Linked DNA regions of Homo sapiens: all the other regions are linked to region 3. Evidence: fine-mapped expression QTL. A gene starts in region 3. Each other region holds a variant in brackets. All regions are shown on one strand. Distances are between the middles of the regions. Region 1 overlaps DTNBP1 (dystrobrevin binding protein 1). Region 2 has its middle 23 kb from the start of DTNBP1. Region 3 holds the start of DTNBP1 (dystrobrevin binding protein 1).

Region 1 (4,000 bases), 67 kb before region 3:
GCCTGGGTGACAGAGCGAGACTCTGTCTCAAAAAAAAAAAAAACGAAACAAAACAAAAAAACAAAAACAAAACCTGTGTAATTGTTTCCCTTCAGTCAATAATCAACTTCATTCTTAAAAGCTTAGCTAGGTACAAGCTAAATATGCCTAAAACCTGCTTTATACCCCGATAATAAAAACCAGAATACAACAGGAAGGCAATATGTATCACAAGAGAATCTCAAAAAGATATCTTCAATCTACTTCTTAGTGACATCCTCACATTAGCAATTCCCCGACGTGGGGAAAGTTGACAGAACACTCAGTTCAATATTCTAATGAGTAATTCTTTTTTTTTTTCTATGATTACAATGTTTAGAGAGCTTCTAATTTTCTTCTTTTAGAATGTGTGACTGTGAGCAGAATTTCTAAAGGGCTCTCTTGTTTTAAAAAGCTGAAACTCAGAATAATGATTTCACAGACACTGTTATTCTCCTACCCCCAAATACTAACAACCATAAAAACAAGGAATCCAGCAACTACTATTAAATACATTAATGAGTGAGTGTGCAATTGAGGAGGGCGGTTTTCCTGTGGACTCATCCTGCTCACCCTGCAACCGTCTGTCTGCTGCTGTGAAGAGGACAAGCCCAGCATCTTCTGGGCATCCTCTGTCACACAGCGTCATGACCCACAACTCCACAACTGTCAGCGAAATTTCCAGGAAACTTCCCTTCAGAAAATCATTCCTGTACCCAATTCCTAAAACAGATGACTGCTTGAAGTAGTGGTGGTACAAATAATTGGTTTAAAGAAAAAAATCAGTATTATGCAACTTTTTTTTTTTTTTTTTTTTTTTTTTTTTTTTGAGACAGAGTCTTGCTCTGTCACCCAGGCTGGAGTGCAGCGGTGTGATCTTGGCTCACTGCAACCTCTGCCTCCCGGGTTCAAGCAATTCTCCTGCCTCAGCCTCCCGAGTAGCTGGGATTACAGCCACCCACCACCACATGCCTGGCTAATTTTTGTATTTTTAGTAGAGATGGGGTTTCACCATGTTGGCCAGACTGGCCTCAAACTCCTGACCTCAGTTGATCCACCTGCCTCGGCCTCCCAAAGTCCTGGGATTACAGGCATGAGTCATCGTGCCCAACCAGTATTATGGAACTTTTAAGGAACTGATGAGGTAAAGCAGCAGCACTGAAAGCCTTGAAATTTCACAATTGTTAGGGTGTACTCCACCATCTGTTAGAGGTACTCAGCATTTGGAAATATAGAAAATGTAAGAGAAGGCAGGGAAAGGCATGTCAGTCACAGGCAGCAGTGACTGTGAGGTCACAGAGGCCAAAGACGACGCAGGTTATATTTAGGAAACAGACTTCAGAACAGCAATACTTCAGCAAGTACTTGTCCTGGAGCAAATACTTCAGAACAGCAGGCTGAATGAAGAGAAAGTAATTCAGATAAAAAGGTAGAGAGTTCTCAGTGCCAGGCTAAAATATTTTGTTTTATTTTTAGCAGGAGAATAACATGAGCAAAGCTGTATTTTAGGAAGAACGTTCTAGCTGTGATGGATGGATATACTGGCAAGGGAGAGAATAAAAGCAGTGAGTACACAGGAAACTCACGTTGGGGGCACGTGGGGAAGAGCTAATTAATACTTGGCAAGAGCAATGTTAAGTGGTAATGACAATGAAATGAAGGATTCCAATTTGAAAAGTATCATAAAGAAGACTCAACAGCCCAAGGCATCTGACTCAATGGGGTAAGGAGAGGAAGGAGACAAGCATGCTAACCGGGGCAGTTCTAGTCTGGATCATAAGAAGGAAAAGATTTTGGAGGGCAATGCATGAGTTCGGTTTGGAAATTGCTGAAACAGGAAGACTGAAAGCTGCAGACAGGATTCCCATCCCCTTCAGCCTACTCGAGGATTTAACTCCTACAGATTCCTACTCCCTCGCTTCGCATTCACTCTTGAACCCATTCCAATTTGGCTTCTGGACCCCCCATTACACAATCAACACCACCAACAATCATCATGTTGCCAAATCCAGAGACCACTTCTCTGTTTTCATCCTAATCCTTAAGCAGCATTTGACCCAACTGGTGGTTTCTTGAAACAGTTCCCTCTAGTGTTCTCCCACCTCCTCAGTTTCTTTTGCTATTGTCTCCATCCCTTCCAGACCACCAGATGCTGGAGTGCTGCAGGCTTGGTTCTGGGCCCTCTTCTCTCCTCAGCTTACATTCGCTCATAAGCCAATTTCATCCCTAGCTTTAAATGCCATCCATATGCTACTAACTTCCTGATTACATTTCCTGTCTTGATCTCTTCTTTGAGCTCCAGACTCA[T/C]ATGCAACTGCCCATTTGATAGCTTTATGCAAAAGTGGAGTAGGCTACTCAAACATTTGCAAGACAGCCTGTTCTTCTCCAGTCGACGTCATCTCAGTTAATGGCATTACCCGGCTCCTCAAGTTTTGGCTCATCCATCTCCCTCATTCTCCATCCAATTCATCAATAAATCCTGTCAATTCCATCTCAAAAGATAGCCTGAATTGATCCACTTCTCTCCATCGTCACTGCCATCAACCTTATATAAATATCCATTTTCGTATACTAAATATAATCTTGGTTGAGTTCAATCATTCATTCAACAAAAATTTACTAAGCCTTAGACACTATGATAATGTTAGGAATAGCATTAGGAATAATGCTAGGTTTGGAATAGACATGTTCCATAACCTCAAGGAACTTTAGTGGGAGAGACAGAGAAATAAAGCAATAATTAGAAATCAATGTCATAGATTATAGTGCTTTGGTAATGACATGCTGAGGATTCTCTAGGAATAAAGAAGAGAGGACAACTCATACACTTAGGTTTGGTAGGAAAGGCCTCCTGGAGAAGCAAGGACTGAGCTGATGCATTTTCAAGGACAGTATAACTGATGATGATGGGCAACATTTATCGAGAACATGGCAGATATTTTACTCTTAAGCATTAAGACATACTCTCAGCTAACCAGATGAAAAAGCATGGGTAAGCAGGAGTTTTAAGTTCCAGTCACTCTCCTTCAAACTGTGTTATTAGCATAAAAATGCTAATAATAATAATTAGTGTAAAACAGCCTTCAAGTTCATCTTTTCCAAGAAGACTTCATTGACATCCAATCAGTGATCTCTCCTTTATCAAAAATTCTGTAGCACTAAACTCTATCAATATTATACATTTCATGTGCTGCCTTGTAATGTGGTTCTGTTCATACAGGTATCGTCTCTACAGTTCCTGAAGTGCAGAGACTGCATCTCTTCCATCCTGCATCACATGCGTGCCCAGAGTTGGACCCAACAGACACTCAGCAAATCATGATTACCAAGTACTGAGGCTGCAGGATGACTAAGATCTGCTTCTTCAAAGAGGCCATTGCTGTAATAAAATATAGATTTTATTTTTGATAAAGTTTGATCAAATATTATCTCATTTGAAACAACTTGTTTGTTGCTTGCATTTTCTAAAAATTGAGTTTATTTCCATAGTTTAATAGTATTTTCAGAAGATCAAACAAAAAATTGAAATGTCTCATTTTAAATGTTAACATATTTCAAAATTTACTCAATTCAGCTAATGCCTTTACAAAATTTAGCATAACCCTAAAACTAAAACATTCAAAAAATAACAGCAGGATCAAAAGCTAATAATATTCCAAAGGGTGAAACTGCTATTATTTAATCATTTTCTCTCCAGGGATTGAGTTATAAAGAATAAAAATGAAAGAAAGAATCACATTAATAAGCCTATGGAATGTTACAAGAAGTATATTAAATCTATATATATGAGTAGAAATCAACTAGCTCAGACTGAAGATGAAAACTTAATAGACAGAAGCTACTGGATAAATGCCTCCATAAACACAGATAAAGCAAACTCTCTCTAAATCCTAAACTGCCTCCCTAGGACAAATCCATGATAAAAGGCTAACACAAAATACCACATTCAAAACACCAACTGCAAATTGCACCCTAACATTTT
Region 2 (4,353 bases), 22 kb after region 3:
CTCAGGCTTGACTTGGAGGCCACTTACTCAGGGAAGTCTCTCTTGTTGGTTCAGACAATGCTAGTCCCCAGTTATTTACTCTGAGAATGTCTTCTACTTTTTCTTTCAAACACACATAATTATAAGTAAATAATTATCTAGGTAATTATTTAATGCCTATCTCTCCTTCTCTCACCATCAAACTTTTAAGGACAGAGAGGGCAGAATCATGTCTGATCAGTTCACCTTACATGCACAGTGCCAGTTATATAGTAAATGACCTAAATATTTTTGAATGACGTATACTTGTGGCCATTTTTCCTTTTTAGAGCTTCACCACATTTAGATATTGTGCAAAACATCCCAGAATCTGGAATGCACTCTAGTTCCACAGGGGCTGTTCCTCACTTTGCCTGATGGCCAATAACATGCATAAGTCTCCTTTATTCCCGCCTCAACAGGAGTGTGTGCACACACAGACACACACACACTCACTTACACACAGACTCACACACTCACATCCCTCTCTTTATTTCTATATTTGCATCCAGAAGCAAATATGTGTCAAGGGGATGTTGACCTGGTTAGAAAATCCTACTCTGGCAGAATCTTAAATATTTGCTACATAAATTCATCAGTGCAAGGGCAGACTTTATACTTAGAAACGTTCAGAATTGCCTTGGTTCCAAAATTTAAAAAGGAATCCAAAATTAAAAAAAAAAATCAAATTGTCTTAAAATGCTAAATATAGAGAATAACTATGGATACCAAGCCCCTTGATAATCTTATAGATAGCTGATCTACACTCATGGCTTCAAACATTACTTACGTGTTTGTCTTAGGGTGGGTCACCCAGAAGCAGAGCCTGATTTGTGAGCACACGATTTCTTAAGGAAATAATCCCCAGACTGGTAAGGGAGAGGGGGATGCAAACAGAGGAGAAGAAGCCCAGCAAAGGTAGGCAGTCTTTGCAGAGGGTAGTTTTAGCCCAGTCCTGGGCGTAAAGAAACCCTGGGGCTTGAGGTATGCCCAGAGTTTTTCAGAGAAAAGAGAACTAGGCTTTCACACACCTCGCCCTCTGCACCCTGTGCCTGTCTGTCACTGGTCAAGGGTTGTCCTAGAATAGGAGTCCCCAGACCCTGGGCCACAAACCGGTACTGGTCTGTGGCCTGTTAGGAACTGAGCTGCACGGCGGGAGGTGAGTGGTAGGCGAGCAAGCAGGCAAAGCTTCATCCGTATTTACAGTCACTCCCTATTACCTCTCGCATTACCACCTGAGCTCCACCTCCTGTCATATGGCGCAGGGGTCCCCAACCCCCGGACCGGTACCATGGACTGGTACTTGTCCATGGCCTGTTAGGAACTGGGCTGCACACCAGAAGATGAGCAGTGGGTGAGAGAGTGAAGCTGAGCTCCACCTCCTGTCAGATCAGCGGCGGTGTTAGATTCTCATAGAAGCGGGAACCCTATTGTGAACTGCATATGCGAGGGATCTAGGTTGCAGGCTCCTTATGATAATCTACCGCCTAATGATCTGTCACTGACTGCCATCATCCTTAGATGGGACCATCTAGTTGCAGGAAAACAAGGTCAGGGCTCCCGCTGATTCTACATTATGGTGATTTATATAATTATTTCATTATATATTTCAATGTAATAATAATAGAAATAAAGAGCACAATAAATGTAATGTGCTTGAATCATCTCAAAACCATCCCTCTGCACCACCCGGTCCATGGAAAAATTGTCTTCCATGAAACCGGTCCCTGGTGGCAAAAAGGTTGGGAACCCCTTTCCTAGAGATAAGTAAATTTCCAGGTATATCTTGTTCTGTAGTTGTAGGGGGCAAAGCAGCTCTAAAAGCCCAAGGGCAAGGCTCCAAAGAGACACAGGTGCTGGGTGTTAGAAGCAAAAGCATGAGTGG[G/A]GCTCTCAGAAAACAAGTTACTCCAGGGAATCCAGGTGGAGCAGATGACTGTCCACTACAATCCTTACTGCTCTCAAAATTTCCTCCAGCTTGGACTTTCCACCTGAACTTCAGACCCATGCATCCAACTGCCTACTTGACATCTCTACTTGGATATCTGTGTCAGTTACTTATTGCCACAATAATGTTGTATAACATACAACTACAAAACCTTAGGTGCATATAATAACAAACTATTTTTTTTGTTTACAGTCTGTGGGCCAGCTGGGCAGTCCAGATTATTTGAATTGGGATTGGCGAAGCTCATTTATGCATCCGTTGTCGGCTGTGGGTTTGCCGAGTGGCTTGACTAATCTTTGCTGGGCTTTCTCAAATGTATGGGGCCTCAGCTGGGACAACTGAGCTGATTCCGCTCTGCTGCACATGTCTCATCCTCCAGCGGGATGGCCTAGGAGAGAGGGAGAGAGGGAGGAAGAAGAAGAGAGAGCAAGAACTCTCGCGCGAGAGCCCCCTAATTTGCAAGGCAAGGCAGGCAGCATTTATAGACAAAACAGAAGTGAGGTACAGAAACAGCTTGGTTACAGCTCAGTAACCAATCAGCAGACACCATATTTGAACCTGGTCTGATCAGTTGGCCACCTGTGACCTACTGAAGCTCAGCTGCTGTGATTGGCTGGGACTCAGCTATTTGTTACAAAAGTCGGCTCATGATTTCTGCTTTCATTTAATTTATGTCTAAGTTGGATTGCAGTTTGTTACATAGGGACTCAAAGTATGGAGGCAACCCCAGGTGGGAATTTGGCTTCATTTAACAAGGCTTAGACCCAGAACTGGCCACTGTTCCTATTACCACATTCTATTACCAAAAGAGAGTCACTGGTTAATTCAAAGGGTGGAGAAATAGACTTCACCTTTGATGGAGGAGCTTTAGAGGCCATTTCTGTAAACAGCCTACCAAATGCCTAACAGGCATCTGCTTTATTGGTGGCAGTTGAGCAAAGTTCCATTGTTAAAGACAGGTCACGCCTGTAATCCCAGCACTTTGGGAGGCCGAGGCGGCGGATCACGAGGTCAGGAGATCGAGACCATCCTGGCTAACACGGTGAAACCCCCGTCTCTACTAAAAAATACAAAAAAAATTAGCCGGGCGCGGTGGCGGGCGCTTGTAGTCCCAGCTACTCGGGAGGTTGAGGCAGGAGAATGGCGGGAACCCGGGAGGCGGAGCTTGCAGTGAGCCGGTATCGCGCCACTGCACTCCAGCGTGGGAGACAGAGCGAGACTCCGTTTCGAAAAAAAAAAGACTTACAGGACACCAAATGACAGTGCTTACCGATCTACAGTTTACTGCCGGAAAAGGATACGATATAGCAGCAGCATTGAAGTAGGGGCGTGCATCACAACCAAGGGTTGTGTCACAGCAAGGGGTCCAGGGAGGCCAGGTGCAAGCTCCAATTATCCTCCCTCTGTAAGGGCCGTGCTTGACATGCCCTCTCCCAGATCAGGAACCAATGATGTATGCACGGAACACCTTACAACTGGGGAGCCCCAAATAGAGTCTTATCTCGGGTCTCAGGTGTTTTGTTTGTTTGTTTGTTTTTTGAGATGGAGTCTCGCTCTGTCGTCCAGGCTGGGGTGTAGTGGCGCAATCTCGGCTCACTGCAAGCTCTGCCTCCCGGGTTCACGCCATTCTCCTGCCTCAGCCTCCCGAGTAGCTGGGACTACAGGCGCCCGCCACCACGCCCAGCTAATTTTGTTTTTGTATTTTTAGTAGAGATGCGGTTTCACTGTGTTAGCCAGGATGGTCTTGATCTCCTGACCTTGTGATCCACCCACCTCGGCCTCCCAAAATGCTGGGATTACAGGTGTGAACCACTGCGCCCGGCCAGCAAAGATATTACTCTCTATCATGTTTGTATATACATATACACTCATATATGAAAAGTGAAATATAATTGAAACAAACTGGTTAAGCATTCCTAAAACTTCTACACATTCCGAATCCAACTCTTCAGAACCATTTTTGACATTGACTCATTAATGTCCATGTTTTAAAATCAAGAATGTTCTTGAAAGAGTGCTCCACTCTTGTCTCTGGAATTCTCCCCCAGGTCCCCGACACGATTTAGCACTTTTGGACGAATAAGCACAGGCGATGATAGCTACATCGTGACGGCTGCCTGGTCTCAGTGACTGTAACAGGCACCCTGATTTCAACAATGTTAAAATATAAAAAAAATTTGCATCTGAGAGTCAGTGACATAAGGAATACAATGAGATACCCATTTCCAAAAGTCTTAATGATTTATTTTTTATTTTTTTTGAGATGGAGTCTCACTCTGTCACCCAGACTGGGGCACAGTGGCGCGATCTCGGCTCACTGCAAGCTCTACCTTCCGGGTTCACGCCATTCTCCTGCCTCAGCCTCCCGAGTAGCTGGGACTACAGGCGCC
Region 3 (4,329 bases):
GAGGATCACAAGGTCAGGAGTTCGAGACCAGCCTGGCCAATATGGTGAAACCCGTCTCTACTAAAAAATACAAAAATAAGCCGGGCGCCTCTAGTCCCAGCTACTCAGGAGGTGGAGCCAGGAGAATCGCTTGAATCCGGGAGGCGGCGGTTGCAGTGAGCCGAGATCACGCCACTGCACTCCAGTCTGGGTGACAGAGCAAGACTCCATCTCAAAAAAAAGGGGGGTGGGGGGGAGAAATTTAAAACAGTATGAGTGGAAATGTTCTCACATTCAGTGCATCCTCCAACAGGATTTGTAAGCTAAAGTTGAAAGATCCTTTTCAAAGACAGATCTTTTTCACTTTAAAGGAATGAAAAAATTAAAATTAAGCACTAAGTAACAATACTGACATGATGCTTGCTTCGTGTTTTACACATTAATTCATTAATCCTTGTAATAACCTTTTAAGTACCATCATTATCCCCATTTTACGGTAGCGGAAACAGTACATTGAGGCAAGGCAGCTGAGTAACTACGTTTGATTTAGTGGTCGAGCCAGGATGCCTAGGCAATCTGGCGCCAGAGTCTCGGCCTGTGGTTCCCAGGCGTTGGTGCCCACTGGAATCCCCTGGGGATCTTTAAAACGCCGTCTCCAGGCACTCTGGTCAACAGGTAGGGGGTGAGACCTGGGCATCAGAACTCTGAAAGGTTCCCAGGTGATTCTAAGCAAAGTTTGGGAACCGCTGGGTATTAAAAGCATTCCTAAAGTTCTGTCGCTTCTCCTGCTTAGGAGTTCCTTCGCCGAGGCGCTGAGCTCACGGCAAAGGTAGAGAAAGGACGCAACGGGGAGGGGCGGCCAGCCTTGCCAAGGGTTAGGCCGGCGAGCCGGGCGTGAAAGCCGAGACGCGGCGCGGAAGGCTGTGGCCGGAGGGTGCAGGCTGCTGCGCGGTGCGATCCGACTCGGGGAGGGTGGCTGGCCCAGCTCCAGGTGCGCACGAGCAGGTGTCTGCTGGGCCGAGGGGCGCAGGCCACTGTGCCGCGGGGGCGGAAGCGGTGAGGCGCGCTGGCTTCTCACATGACTTCCCTCCAGGGCCCAGCTGATGCTGCCGGGAAAGGACCGCAGGGTCCCACACCCCCCCCGGGCGCTCCGCTGCGCCGCCGAGCGCCTCCCGGTCCTGGGGGGTGCGCGTCACAGGCGGCCCGCAGGGACCTAAGTTACTTTGCGCCGCCCGACGCGAGGACGCCGGGAAGTTCGTTACTTTCCTCGGCGGGGCGGGGCGGGGAGGTGCGGGACAGGACGGACCCTGGACCGTGGCGCGGGGAAGGGAGCGAGGCAGGGGCATCCCAGGCGGCGGCCCGGCCCCCTCAGGTCCCTTTTCGTCGCCCACCGTATACCCACCCGGAGGTGAAATCCTGCTGCACGCTCAGCAGCCGCTCGCGAAGGGTCTCCAGCATTGCCGCCGCCGCCGGTCTCCTCTCCTCAGGCCTCGGGCTGCTGCTGCCTCTGTCGCCCCCTGGGTCCCACGCCGCCAACCCCGCGCTGTCACCGCGCGCCCCGCACTCCCACTACCGGCCCCGCCCCCGGTCTGGTCCTCGCCGCCGCGCCGCAACCCCAGCCCCTTCCGCGTTCCCGCCCCGCGCGCGCCAGGCTCGCGCAGCCGCAGTGGACTGCGCCGGGCTCGGGCTGCGGAAAAGGGGCGGGTCTTCCCCCGACCGAGAGGGCCAGTAGCTCCTCGGCTCATTCCTATCCCGCACCAGGCCTTCTCGTTTTTTTTTTTTTTTCTTTAAAATGGAAGCGGCATCGTGAAAGGATGATTTAACTCGAAGCCTCCTTTGAGGGAAGTGTTGGCTTTTACGTTTTGGAAGAGAATTGGATCTCTCTCTTCAATAGGCGATGTGCACAAATCATTGCATGGATTCTAGGTCCAGGATCTGACCCCACTGGCTTTCACCTTGAATGAGACAGTCAAATATTGAGCCTCGGTTTCTTCATTCATAAAATGGCAATAATAGTCGACTGTCTCGACATTCTTACTTTCCACTCTCTCTTTACCCCCCCAGGCTTTTGTGCCCTACACACCAAAGGTGATCGCCTTTCGCGAGTCACCAGTGACTTCCATGTTGCTGATGCCTTTTATTACTTCTCTGCCCTGATTTTTTCTCCACCTCTCAGTGGCTTTCAATGCAGTTTATCATCCCCATCCTTAAAACACTTTCTTCTCTTGCTAAGCACTCCATAGTTCCTCTCTCCCTTCCGCTCCACCCCTTCTCCTATTTTAATAGCCACTCCCAAGGCTACAGTCCAGCCTCCCCAGCTCTTCTCTCTTCTCCAGATGTGTTGTTCCATAGATGGATAGCATAGAGTCTATCCATTACCACGCTGTAAATTCTGTCAAGGAACCGATGACTCCCACAGCTCTATCTTCTGCCCTGTCCTTCCTCCCTCTCCGTCAATTCATACCAGTTGCTTACTCATGTAAGCATGTATACAACATGTATCCAAAAGGCATCTCAGACCAACATACACAAAATTGAAAATTTCATTCATTGCATGTTCACCTTTAATCTGCTCATCCTGTATTTTCCGTTTCAGTAAATGACACCACCATCCACCAATTTGCTCAAGGTAAGACACTTGAAATCACCTCTGGTTCCCCTCTTTTCCTCATTCCCCATATTAACCCATCAAATCCAATCAACTCTACTCCTGAAGTATTTCTGGAACCTCCTTCTCTTTCTATATCTTCACTATATTTATCCTGGTCGAAGGCACCATCCTCTTTCAATGGGAACACAGACAGTTCTTCCAGATTCTACTCTTTTGCCATACACACCCCTATAATCCATCCTTGACACAGCAGCCAGAAAGAGTTATTTAAAAGATCAATCGGATCACGTTGCTCCCCTGCTTAAAATCTTCCAATTGCCTCCTGGGCACTTGGAATAAAATTCAAACTACTTACCCCCTTAAAAAGCCCTAAAATTTGAATGTTTTCTAGCACTGTATCCAAATTGATTACTAGTCACCTATCATGTCCTTGACAATTAAGACATAATAGCCTTTTTTTTTTTTTTTTTTTTGGTGTGTTCTTAGAAAATTCCAGGTTTATTTCCACCTGTGGTGTTTTCACAAACTTTTCTCCAAACTGTCCCTTGTCTGGCTCCTTATAACATAAGGGTCACATCCTAAATAGCATCACATTAGATAGGTTTTACTTACCATTCAAGTTACACACCCAATCACTTCCTATCACGTAGCCTGTTTCTCAACTTAGTACACATTAGAAAATTTATTCAATAATTATTTGCTATTTATTAATTTAGTTGTTTACAAACATATTTTAAAACCACGACAAATAAGGCATTCACCTCAGGTACAAAATTTACGGGAGCCAAAAAGCTCAGTAATCAAGATAAGTAATATTTTAATACAATATTTAAAAAATTCAAAATTAATGAAAAAAAATCTGTGATGAACAAAATATCAAAATTTTAAATACACAGGATCTGTTAGGGCTGGGATTGGATGAGGCCAGTGAGGTAAGTAGCACAAGTACAGGCCCAGATGTAAACTGCTCTGTCTTATTAAGCTTTGCATCCCCAGCAATGAAAACAGTGAATGGCACATAACAGACACCCAGTAAATGTCTTGTTGCAGGAGTTAAATAAGATAAAGGACTTAGCTTGTAGCTGGGGGACCACCTCTTCCCCACTCTTGATGTTTTCTTCCATGGGAAGGGAGCTCTTCTGCTAACATAAAGAAGTACCCAGCCTCTCCTGGTGGGGAAGAGGTGACTACGATGATTAGTGAGCTAGAAGTAAGGAGCTTGGTCTCATCTTCTTTTCTTTTTGTTGAGTGAACACTTCCAACAAAGAGCATTCATTCTGCTGCCTAAAGACAGGCTTGAAGGGCAACCCAGTGCTTTTTGTGACTGGGTACTAGAAGTTCTGCTTGCCCATGAATATAAGCCATGTGTTCCATCAGTCTTCCTAGATATAAAAGTGATATTTTGGCCTCTTTATGCTGACACTATTGTTTTATTTCTCAGTTTGCTCAGACAAGTAAGAAAGAGGAGTGCTGTTTATTGAGCCTTCTTCTACCTCTCAGAAACAGTGCCTGGAACAAAGCAAGTGATCAAATGATCAAATCTACAGACAGGTCCCTTAGTATCTAGTAGATTTGAAAACCACAAGTACTGGGAAATATTAAATTTTTTTCTTTTATTCAATTAAACTCTACACATAAGCTTTCAATTTACTAAGTTTCATACATTCCAACAAAGCACCAAATCCACTCAAAAAAGACTCTTGCCTGTCACTAAAAAATAGCTTTACTGGTTGTGCCTG

The links. PIP is the estimated chance that this variant, and not a neighbour inherited with it, causes the effect. A credible set is the group of variants that fine-mapping cannot tell apart.
Region 1: its variant is the best candidate, but not a certain one, in a credible set for the expression of DTNBP1 in whole blood (INTERVAL, PIP 0.51).
Region 2: its variant is the best candidate, but not a certain one, in a credible set for the expression of DTNBP1 in hippocampus (GTEx, PIP 0.82).

Annotation. Positions count from the first base shown.
Region 1 is chr6:15,594,436-15,598,435 of GRCh38, forward strand. The region is part of intron 6 of DTNBP1 (dystrobrevin binding protein 1); the gene reads right to left. Among named protein-coding and RNA genes, the nearest start is that of DTNBP1-AS1, 50 kb to the left of the region's middle. The variant T/C (reference allele first, on the strand shown) is at 2,326.
Region 2 is chr6:15,683,823-15,688,175 of GRCh38, forward strand. No RefSeq gene overlaps it. Among named protein-coding and RNA genes, the nearest start is that of DTNBP1, 23 kb to the left of the region's middle. The variant G/A (reference allele first, on the strand shown) is at 1,904.
Region 3 is chr6:15,661,433-15,665,761 of GRCh38, forward strand. DTNBP1 (dystrobrevin binding protein 1) reads right to left here and starts at 1,596. Exons shown (of 10, transcript NM_032122.5): 1 at 1,382-1,596. The coding sequence starts at 1,437. RefSeq lists an enhancer at 803-852 and a silencer at 1,083-1,592.